3 linked regions of the Homo sapiens genome follow. The protein of the gene in region 3 purifies or fractionates together with the protein of the main gene of each other region. This does not show direct contact. Each region holds a gene or a part of one and is shown on either strand. Other genes may lie near its edges. The genes, in order: NFXL1, CLN6 and NAXD.

Region 1 (3,653 bases), on a different chromosome or scaffold from region 3:
TAGTCTCAAATAACTGAATACCTACATGAAAAACCTCTCTGCTAACTACACAGCCCACCTCCATTAAATCTACAGACTAAAATTACCCTATTTGTGCATATATCTCCTAACAACACTTTGCCTCCCAACTTGACTGTGTGACCAATACACAAAAATATACATGCTATTTCAACTGGGAGGAATGTTGTGGAAATGAAAGCTTTTAGAATTAAAAAACAAAAACAATCCTCTCTTTAAAAGACCAATACACCAGAAATACCAATGTTTAATTTGGCACCTCAGTTGTAGACAACAGCCCCTTTTCTAACTTTATGTTGCTTCTCAGCATTCTGTGCTTTTTCCCCTATACTCCATAACCTCTGCTGGAAGTATAAAAAATTCCAGGATTCCGTATTACTGTAGGTTCAGCTCCTTAGAGCTCAGTCCCAGTCATTCACTGGCCCATCCAGGAAACTACTTCCTCTCATTTCCAAGGCTTCCTTTAAATATTCCCCAAGTTTGCCTTATCTAAAACCTGGCTTTCTTCTGTCTTCAGGGAGCTTACAATCCAGTATGGGAATCATCGGGAAAAGTAACAAATGATGTTCCTTGGATTTGTTTTTGTAATTGCATGCACTCGCTATGGAAAGCTAAGAAGGGCATCAAACTCCAACTGGGGGTAAAGACTCAAAAAAAGATATCTATAGTAGGTTTATATGCAAGTATGACAAACATGTTTGAAAAGAATGAAGGTTAAGACAGACACACTAGTTGATAGGCTAGGCCTGAAATAATAATGAACTGAACTAAGAAAAAAGGGAGATTGACTTCAGATACCCTTTAAGCTATGTCAAAAGTTTTTTGTTTTTTTTTTTTAATTGAAATTCTAATACTTACATAGGAATAGGAACTTGACATGGAGGACACGGTAATGCAGTCTGAATAAATGCTGGCTCAGAAGGCTGTTCCCAAGGGCCTGTAGGCTGGTGCTACAAATAAAATACATAAGAATTTTAAGTCAGAGGGATTAAATCATATGGCCATTTTAAGAATCTAAGAAAATAGTTCCATGTATCCTCTGCTCAAGCAGGTTGAAATTTTTTCAAATAATCAATAAATTGTGCTTACTGAAATATTTCATTTTATCTGTATTAAATGAAATTGTTCCTCTCCACAGACATTTGATATTAATAACTGAGACAGAATCCAGTTTATAAATGGTAGAACAAAGGCAGTGTAGCCTCCTTTACTTCCAATAAGGAAATGAGAAAAACAATTGGAAACTCCAACATCTAGCAATTGAATATAATCTCCATCATTTTACTCACTGTTGTTCCTCAGCACCTAAAAAAAAGCTTGATATTTAGTAAGGGCTCAATAAATGTTCATGAGGCTGGGCTGGACGTGGTGCCTCACACCTGTAATCCCAGCACTTTGGGAGGCGGAGGCGGGCAGATCACTTGAGGTCAGGAGTTCGAGACCAGCCTGATCAACAAGCTGAAACCCCATCTCTACTAAAACTACAAAAATTAGCTGGGCATGGTAGCAGGCACCTATAATCCCAGCTACTCAGGAGGCTAAGGCACGAGAGTCACTGAACCCGGGAGGTGGAGGTTGCAGTGACCCAGATCACACCACTGCACTCCAGCCTGGGCAACAGAGTGAGACTCCGTCTCAAAAAAAAAAAAAATTAAATAACTAAAAATAAATAAATATTAAATAAAATATTAAAAAGTGAATAAATCTTTAAAATAAGATTATAGGAGATATCTATAACCCTAAACCACAATATATGAAGGAGGACTGCCAAATTCACCTGTATCATGATCATAATGTAACTATCACACTGTATTTGCAAACAATGGTTTCACTCCTTTCCTACACTGTGAGTTGCTTAAAACAAAATCAAGTCTTGATTACCTTGTACCCTGCTCCAAGCACAGTGCTTCCCAATAAGTGCTTAATCATTGCTCATTGAAAAACTAAGTAAAAGCAAGAAAGTACAACCCACAGCAATGCACTATTTCTCTAATAGTATTATTCCCTTACCCTGCCAGTCTGCTTTATTAATGCTTGATCATGACACGGAGCAGGACACAAGTGACCACATTTCTCCAAAACTTTTTGGCAAGGTTGATGACATGGTGGACAAGAACCAAAGTGACAGCGATGTTTTTCTTGACTTGTATGATGACAAGTTGGTGGTCGACTAAATCATAAAGTACAATTTTCAAAAATTACTTTTAGTCATTGAATAATTACATCTAAAGGACAATTATCTATTTACATATCTTCTGATTCCATATAGAATGAGTATACTGTGAATATTAATATTTTAAAACACTAAAGCAAAATTAAATTATTAAAAGCCAATATGAATTTAAATTTGTACAACATCAGATGGAAGCTTGTGCAAAGCTTCAAACTCACCTGCATTGCTCCTTGCACTTGGGTGGTCTTGTGGTACGTTCTCGGCCACAGGGCACTGTCACCTTTGTATTGCCACAATTACACTTCACATCTACGGTTTCTGGGCAGGGATAGCAACTGCCTGAAAAAAAAGTCTGACAATTAAAAAGTTTCCTTAACTACCCAAATGCCTATTAATGGTAAAATACATAAATTTAGTATATTCACACAATGGGATACTCTACAACAAGAATGAAGAAACTACAACAACATGAATGAATCTTACCACAAAACATTGAGCCAGACACAAGGAGTACATAGTGCATGATTCCATTTATATAAAGTAAACAAGAAAAAATGTACTGTTCAAAATCAGAGTGATAGCTATGAAGGATGCAAGGAAGGTGTTGAAAATTTTGGTCATGTTCTGTTTAATGATGTAAGTTTTGGTTACCTGGCTATGTTCAGTTTGTAAAAATTCAACAAGCTGTATACTTTTTATTTGTAATACTTTTCTCTTTTTTTTTTTGTAACAGGGTCTCAACCTGTTGCTCAAGCTGAGTGCTGTTGCATGATCACAGCTCAGTGCAGCCTCAACTTTCTGGGCTCAAGCAATCCTCCCACGTCAGCCTTCCAAGTAGCTGGGACTACAGACACACACCACCATGCCCAGCTAATTTTTGATTATTTATAGAGATGGAGGGGTCTCACTATGTCATCCAGGCTGGTCTCAAACTCCTGGACTCAAGCAATCTTCCCACCTCAGCTTCCCAAATGCTGGGTGTACAGGCGTGAGCCACTGCACCCAGCCTCTGATTTATAACACTTTTTTCTCTGTACACTGGTACCTCATAAAGTTTTAGACATTTCTCTAAAATGTGCTAAAACTTCTGTTCTAAATAACAAATTTAACACATTACTCATTCAAAACTAAAACAAGCAAAAATGGATTTAAGTCTTTGGAAAATTTAACATTAACAATAATATCGTTGGCCTACTTTCATACATCTATCCAAGTACACAATTTTTAGATGAATTCCCAATAACTTCTTTCTCATGACCTGATATTGGTTAGTAGCAAGCACAGTCAATTTTCCATTAATTGTGCTTTGTGAAAGACTAAGTACTAAGCCACCATTTTAGGATATAATCCCAAATATTTCTCTTCTAAACATAAAAAAAAATGTTATTTTGGTTTCAGCTTTTTACGCTCTTTTGTTATGGGTTGGCAAAAATATAAAAAAACAAAATCAAAGAAATCTTTA
Region 2 (3,653 bases), on a different chromosome or scaffold from region 3:
CACTCCTGGCCTCATCTCTCTCTCTAGCACCAGTTTGATGGGCAGCTTCTTTGGCCCCCAGTATGTGGTTCCTTCATGCTAGAAGAAGGTTCAGAGCAGCCAGTCCAGCCAGTCTTCTTGGAGAGAGAAATGAAGCCCAGGACAGTGACTTGCCCTAGGTCACCCACAAACCCAACCAGATGCCCCAACTCTTGGCTCAATTCCTCTTATTTTTCCACATTTAAAAGGCAACCTTCAAAAAGACTGCAGGAAGGAGAACCAGCACCCACCATCACTCCCTGACAGCATTGCCAGGACAGCTTTTCTTTACACCTATCAAGTCTTTGATCCCAGGTAGACAAGCTCGTTATTGACTTGCAATTAGTCAGTCTGCATGTCATTTAGGAACCTTTTTTCTCCTTAAATATTCCAGGTTGCTCTATAGTATCCATAATTTCTGCTTAATTGCCAGGAAACATTCTCTATAATGGACATAGCAAAACTGATTTACCCAGTCCCTAATGCTGGACACGCAAGTCACTTCTAAGGTTTGGCTATCATAAACACCACTGCAATGAACATCTTTGAGTTAGAGGAAACTGCTGTCTTCTTGCTGATTATATCCCTACGGGCAGATTCTCGGAAGGGTATTACTGGGTCAGAGGGATGAATATATTAGGATTCTGGATATTTATGTGACAGAGAATTCAACCTTGTCAGAAAGGGGCTCCAGGGCCAGAATGCCTGGGCAGATGCTGGCCTCTATGCTTGACCTCGAGCCAGTTACTTATTCTCTCTCTCCTCAAGTTTCCTCATCTATAACATTGAGATCAGCAATAGTGTTGATATGAGAATTAAATAAACTGAAACACATAAAGAGCTTAGAACAGAGTAAACATTCGATGTTAGCCACTATTCTAACTTTGCTATAATTATTATTCATTCAGTAAAAATGCATTAAACACTTATTGTGTTAGGCACTATTCTAAGTACTAATCTTGCCAAGTTGTTACTTATGAATTATTACTGCTTTCCAAAAAGGCTTTGCTTTTTGTTTGTTTTGTTTTTTGAGACAGGGTCTCACTGTGTTGCCCAGGCTGGAGTGCAGCGGTGTGATCACGGCTCACTGCAGCCTCAACTTCCCAGGCTCAGGAGATCTTCCCAGCTCAGTCCTGAGTAGCTGGGACTACAGGTGCACATCACCACACCCAGCTAATTTACAAATCTTTTATAGAGACAGGGTCTCATTATATTGCCCTGACTGATCTCAAACTCCTGGGCTCAAGTGATGTTCCTGTTTCAGCTTCCCAAAGTGCTAGGATTATAGGCATGAGCCACCATGCCCGGCCCCAAAAGGGCTTTGCTAATTTGCATGATCACTAGTATGTACAAAGTGCCAGTTTCAGCACTGGATATTGTTATTTTTACACTTGAATTTGCTGAGTGACCTTCGAAAAGTCACTTCCCGTTTATCTTCCAGTAAACTGAGAGTATAGGCCTGGATGCCTTCATATCTTTTGGCTCTATGACTGTGGCCCGTCAGGCAACTGTCAGCAAGTTGGGTGGGAGGGGTCTGGGGGCCATGAATAGTCACACTGTGCCCCCACTACCAAATAATGACTTGATACCTGGTGATATCTCACTTAATTTTCTTCACGTTCGTCTATTTATTATCTATCATCTGTCAATTATCTACCTACCTACCTACCTACCTACCTACCTACCTACCTACCTACCTATCTATCTTCCATCCTCCCACTACAAGCAAGGGGCACTGGTGCCCTCCCAGCATTAATCTTGTCTGTGGAGGCCACCACTGGATACTAAAGCATGAAGTAGCCTTGGAAGGCAGGGGATGGTTTCACTGGATGGCATTAAAAATTACCCATGGCTCACAGTCATATATAATATGCAAAATCAGCCTACGCCCTTCAACTCCAGAAAAAATAATACTATCCCAAGGTAATGGGGAAGGACAGGGGAGACGGAGGTGGGGGTGCGGTGCTCCACTTCCTTTCCTATACCCCTTTGTCTGTCTTGGTGATTTGGTTCAACCTGGTTCACCTGCTTCCAGACACAGGCCAGAGGGGGTTACAGTATTACAGTATGACTGTTCAGGACCACCAGTTCCCCCATGAGAGTTGGGGCAAAGTATGACTCTTCAGGCCCCCCACTTGCTGGCAGTTGCCTGACGGGCCAAGTCATAGAGCTAAGGATATGAAGGCATCCAGGCCTATTCTCTCAGTTTACTAGGAGATAAAGGAGAAGTGACTTGTCTAAGGTCACTCGGCAAATTCAAGCCACACTAAGTGTCCTCAGTGCTGGTCAGAGCCCTGTGCACCATTTCACACTCACCATGGCAATGGGACGCCCAAAGTCCAGAACCCAGTTCTGCAGTGTGAAGTAGAACCAGAGGTCGAGGTGGAAGGGAGCCGTGCGGGCAGCCTCATCAGCGCTCACAGAGCCATGCCTGGGAAGGAACCAGACGAGAGAAGTCAGCTCTTCTCTCCTCCTCCACCAAAATCTTCCCCTGAGATTAGCCACAAAGAGGTCTGGGGACTTGAGGACAGGAGGAGACACACATAATTGAGTTCTATGGATAGGGTTTTGCTGGATATACTGGGGTCTGGCCCTGTGGTCAAGGAGAAGGTGGACTTCAGCTGCCCCGACCTTAGCTTCTCTCTGATTCAGGAAGGAAACAGCTGAACAGGTGTAATTGCTGGGGTTTCTCCGCTACTGAAAGATGGAGGAAATCAAGAAAGGCAAAGGACGCAATCGTGGCTGAAAAGCATGAAACTTGATGATGGATCATGGCAGCTGACCTTAGTTGAGCACTTACTATATCCCAGGCACTACTGTTAGCTGTTTACATGTATTATCTCATTTAATCCTCACAGAAACCTTTCAAGGCTGAAATATTACCTCCATTTTAGAAACGAAAAAACTGAGGCCCAAGAGGCTCAATAACTTGCTCAAGGTCACACAGCTAAGGATTTGAACCCAAATGATTGGGCTCCTGAGCTTATACTTTTAACCTCCATCCCATAGTTGGGTCCATCAGGATTGGTCTATGGGATGGGCATGTGACCAGAGCTTGGCCAATCAGAGCCCTCCAATGAAATGTGCTTTAGAGAGACTGAAATGGATAGGGCCTCCTGCTCGCTTGATTCCAGCACTGTGAGGAGGTCAGGTTGGGCTGCTGGTAATCCTCTTCTCAGCAGTCCACAGTAGAACCTGAGAAGGAGCCAGCAGAAGCAAGGTGATGTGAGAGACACAGCAGGAAGTGGAGTACTGCCTCACGATACATCTTTGGAGGCCTGTCCCTCTCACTAAACAGTTGGTCATCTGCTGTTCACAGATGCACTGAAGTTCCAGGACCAGTGCTGCCTCCTCTGGGAAGGCTTCCCTGATGAAGCTTTTCCCAAAGCCCCACCAGCCCACTGCAGGGAGCATTTCAACGCCAACCCAGTCTGGCATAATGGGGCTGGAGCTGTACTCTCCCATCTAGACCCTCGAGAACAGGGGTGACCTTTAAGGTTCTCCCAACTCACCCACCTCCCTATCAGAGTCCAAATCCTCTTTACAGAGTCCCTGCAATTACTTGCACACCTCCAGGGACAAGCAGCCAGCCACATCCTAAGAGGACTGAGGTGTGGGTTTCATCGTCTCGTTTG
Region 3 (3,653 bases):
GAGTGCACCTATCGACACTCTGTATCTAGATGCTCTGGTGGGGCCTTGGAGAACCTGTGTGTCGAAACTCTGTATCTAACTAATCTGATGGGGACGTGGAGAACCTTTGTGTCTAGCTCAGGGATTGTAAACACACCAATCAGTGCCCTGACAAAACAGGCCACTCGGCTCTACCAATCAGCAGGATGTGGGCGGGGCCGGATAAGAGAATAAAAGCAGGCTGCCCGAGCCAGCATTGGTAACCCGCTCGGGTCCCCTTCCACGCTGTGGAAACTTTGTTCTTTCGCTCTTTGCAATAAATCTTGCTACTGCTCACTCTTTGGGTCCACACTGCTTTTATGAGCTGTAACAGTCACCGCGAAGATCTGCAGCTTCACTCCTGAAGCCAGCGAGACCACGAGCCCACCGGGAGGAACGAACAACTCCAGACGCGCTGCCTTAAGAGCTGTAACACTCACCGCGAAGGTCTGTAGCCTCACTCCTGAGACAGAGACCACGAACCCACCAGAAGGAAGAAACTCCGAACACATCTGAACATCAGAAGGAACAGACTCCAGACGCGCCACCTTAAGAGCTGTAACACTCACCGCGAGGGTCCACGGCTTCATTCTTGAAGTCAGTGAGACCAAGAACCCACCAATTCTGGACATAAAAATACATGCTAAGAATAATTTAAAGTATTGAAAACTAAAGCCGTGTATATTAAATGAAATTTGAAAGCTGACAAAGCATTAGCTGCTCGCCTAACAAAGTGCTCATTTCAGCCTGTTTATGACGCACATTCCAGCCATAGGAAAGTGTGTATTTGGCTCTGACACTGGTCCGAGCATTAGCAGTGTGTCCTGAAGCCCCTTCCAGGGAGGCAGGTACCTGAGACTTCATGGAAGTTTATTATTCCCTTTATTAACAATAAAAATTCTTTGTCTGCTTGCCCTGAGTTTGGCTTTACTGTTAAAACTGGCAGGCTTTTGCTAATTCAGATTTTAGATCAGTTTCTGATTTCATGTTGCAGTATTTGGCAACAATCTGACATTTTCATCTGTTTCTGTGTTTTCTTTTAATGTATTTGCAAATAGTACTCAAAAGTGAATATTCAAACCCTGGAAAATGCAATGTTACATGGGTCTCCTAGAAAGGTTTGCAGCATCAGAGCACCCAGCGCAGAAGGGTGTCCCCACCCATGGGAAAGCAAACCTTGGTACACTAGGGAGAAATCTGGGGGCATCTCTCAAAAATTTAAACGTCCTTACTCTGATTCAGCAATGGAACTTCACCCAAAAGAGTGCACAAAACACATAGATTCAGGACACCACTGATGTTAACATGAAGAAAAAGCTGAAAACAGTGTAAATGAACTAAATACACTGTAGTAGATCCATAAATTCTGATGTGGCTGTTAAAAATAATGAGTATCCACATATCCTTCCATGAAAAAGTCTCCAGGACACACTGTTAACGAGTGTGCAAAGAGCACAGTGTGAGGACAGGTGCATTGGTCAAGAGCCTGCGCTCCAGATTCAGACAACGTGGGTTCAAAGCCAGCCCAGGAACCAGAAGACTTAATGTTGTTAGACATTCCCCCAACTGATCTTCAGTTTCAACATCATCCCTACCAAAGTTGCGGCTGCCTATTCCACAAATCAGCAAGCTGATCCAAAACTGGAATGCATGGGACCCAGGAGAGCCAAAACAACCTTAAAAAGAGCGAATTTGGAGGACTCGGGCTTTCGACGTCAAGGCTTCCTACACAGCCACAGCAGTCAAGACCGGGCAGTTGCAGGACAGCTGTACAGATCAACAAAACAGAAACAACAGTCCAGAAATAAGCCTTCACATTTAGGGTCAACGGATTGTCAGGGAGGATGACAAGTTGGGAGGAAAAAGGAGTCTCTCCAGCACATGGTGCTGCAACAGCTGGACACCCACAAGCAAAAGACTGACGCTGGAGCCTCCTCCTACCACACCAGCATCAGCTCGACATGCACCGCAGAGCTAAAGTAACAACCAAAACAATAAGGCTCTTAACATGTAGGAGTAAACCTTGGGTTAGGCAGAAGCTTCTGAGATAAGACACCAACAGCACAAGGGACAAAAGAAAAAACAGCTAAATTGGACTTCAAAATTAAAAACTGTGCTGTAAACAAAACCATCGAAGTGAAAAGACAACCTACAGAATGAGAGGATATCGGCAAATCGTCTCTCTGATAAGGAACCTGTGTCTAGAACGTATATGAAGAACTCCTAAAAGTCAATAAAAAAAAGGCAAAAAACAGTTTTCAAAGTGGGGAAAGGGTATGAATAGACACTTCTCCAAAGAAGATACCCAAAGAGGCCAGGCATGGTAGCTCACGCCTGTAACCCCAGCACTTTGGGAGGCTGAGGCGGGCGGATACCTAAGGTCAGGAGTTCGAGACCAGCCTGGCCAACATGGTGAAACCCCATCTCTACTAAAAATACAAAAATTAGCTGGGTGTGATGGTGGGCGCCTGTAGTCCAAGCTACTTGGAGGCCAAGGCAAAGGAATCACTTAAACCCAGGAGGTGGAGATTGCAGTGAGCCAAGATCACGCCATTATACTCCAGCCTGGGTGACAGAGTGAGAATATGTCTCAAAAACAAAACAAAACAAAAACAAAAAAAAAGATACCCAAACAGCCAATGAGCACATGCAAAGATGCTCAACAGCATCAGCTGCCAGGAAAACGCAAACCAAACCACAGTGAGGTCGCTCCACGCCCACTAGAGTGGCTGCTAAGTAGACAACAACAGTAACAAGTGCTGGGAACGATGTGGAGAATCAGAGCCCTCGCACACTGCTAGAGGGAATGGAAAATAGTGCAGCCGCTATGGGAAACAGTGGCAGGGCCTCAAAATGTGAAACACTTAACACCCAGGAGAGTGAAAACACATCCACACAAAAAGTGGAAACCAATTTTCCATAAATTAATCAACAGATAAACCAAAGGTGGTGTATGCATACAGTGAAATATTAGATATAAAAAGGAATGGAATACTGATACATGCTACAACACAGGTAACTCTAAATATAAAATTATGCAGAGTGACATAACTAATCACTAAATAGCACACGTTGCATAATTCCATTCATATGAAATGTCCTGAACAGGCGAATCCAGAGAGACAGAAAGCATACTAGCTGAGTGGCTGCCAGGAACTGGGGAGACTGGGGAACAGGGAGCAGATGCTAACGGGGATGGGCTGCTTCTGGAGGCAATAAACATATTCTAAGGTTGATCATGGTGATGGTTGCACAACTATGAATATACTTGAAGCCACCGCATAGTTCACTTTAAATGGGTGAGGGGTATGGTAGGTAAATCATCTAAATAAAGTCGTTTTTAAAAAACCATCTCTGCAGTTTCTTTGCTACCAGATCCCACGGGCGTCTTGAATCCTTGCCAGGACTCAATCTGTCATCAGAAGAATGGGGCTATGAATAGGAATCTACCTAATCGGGTTGTTTTCAGGCCTACACCAGATGATGACCTCATTCAGGAACGTCGACGAAGTAGGAAGCCTCTGCTCCGCACCAGACACGAGCTGGAAGCTGACGAGGAGGCGGCAGCCCACGCTAGATGACCTGAGGGCTCTCAAGACCACGGCAACAGTGTACAGGAACCAGAATGCAAGGTC

Evidence for each region.
Region 1: the proteins of NAXD (region 3) and NFXL1 purify together in Homo sapiens (affinity purification with mass spectrometry; one large-scale study listed by BioGRID and IntAct). This does not show direct contact.
Region 2: the proteins of NAXD (region 3) and CLN6 purify together in Homo sapiens (affinity purification with mass spectrometry; one large-scale study listed by BioGRID and IntAct). This does not show direct contact.

Annotation. Positions count from the first base shown.
Region 1 is NC_000004.12:47,883,470-47,887,122, forward strand, and holds part of NFXL1 (NF-X1-type zinc finger protein NFXL1), read right to left. Parts: intron 2,531-3,653; coding exon 2,410-2,530; intron 2,189-2,409; coding exon 2,029-2,188; intron 969-2,028; coding exon 877-968; intron 1-876.
Region 2 is NC_000015.10:68,216,202-68,219,854, forward strand, and holds part of CLN6 (ceroid-lipofuscinosis neuronal protein 6), read right to left. Parts: intron 2,450-3,653; coding exon 2,335-2,449; intron 1-2,334.
Region 3 is NC_000013.11:110,629,005-110,632,657, reverse strand, and holds part of NAXD (ATP-dependent (S)-NAD(P)H-hydrate dehydratase), read right to left. Parts: intron 1-3,653. UniProt on the Homo sapiens protein: Catalyzes the dehydration of the S-form of NAD(P)HX at the expense of ATP, which is converted to ADP.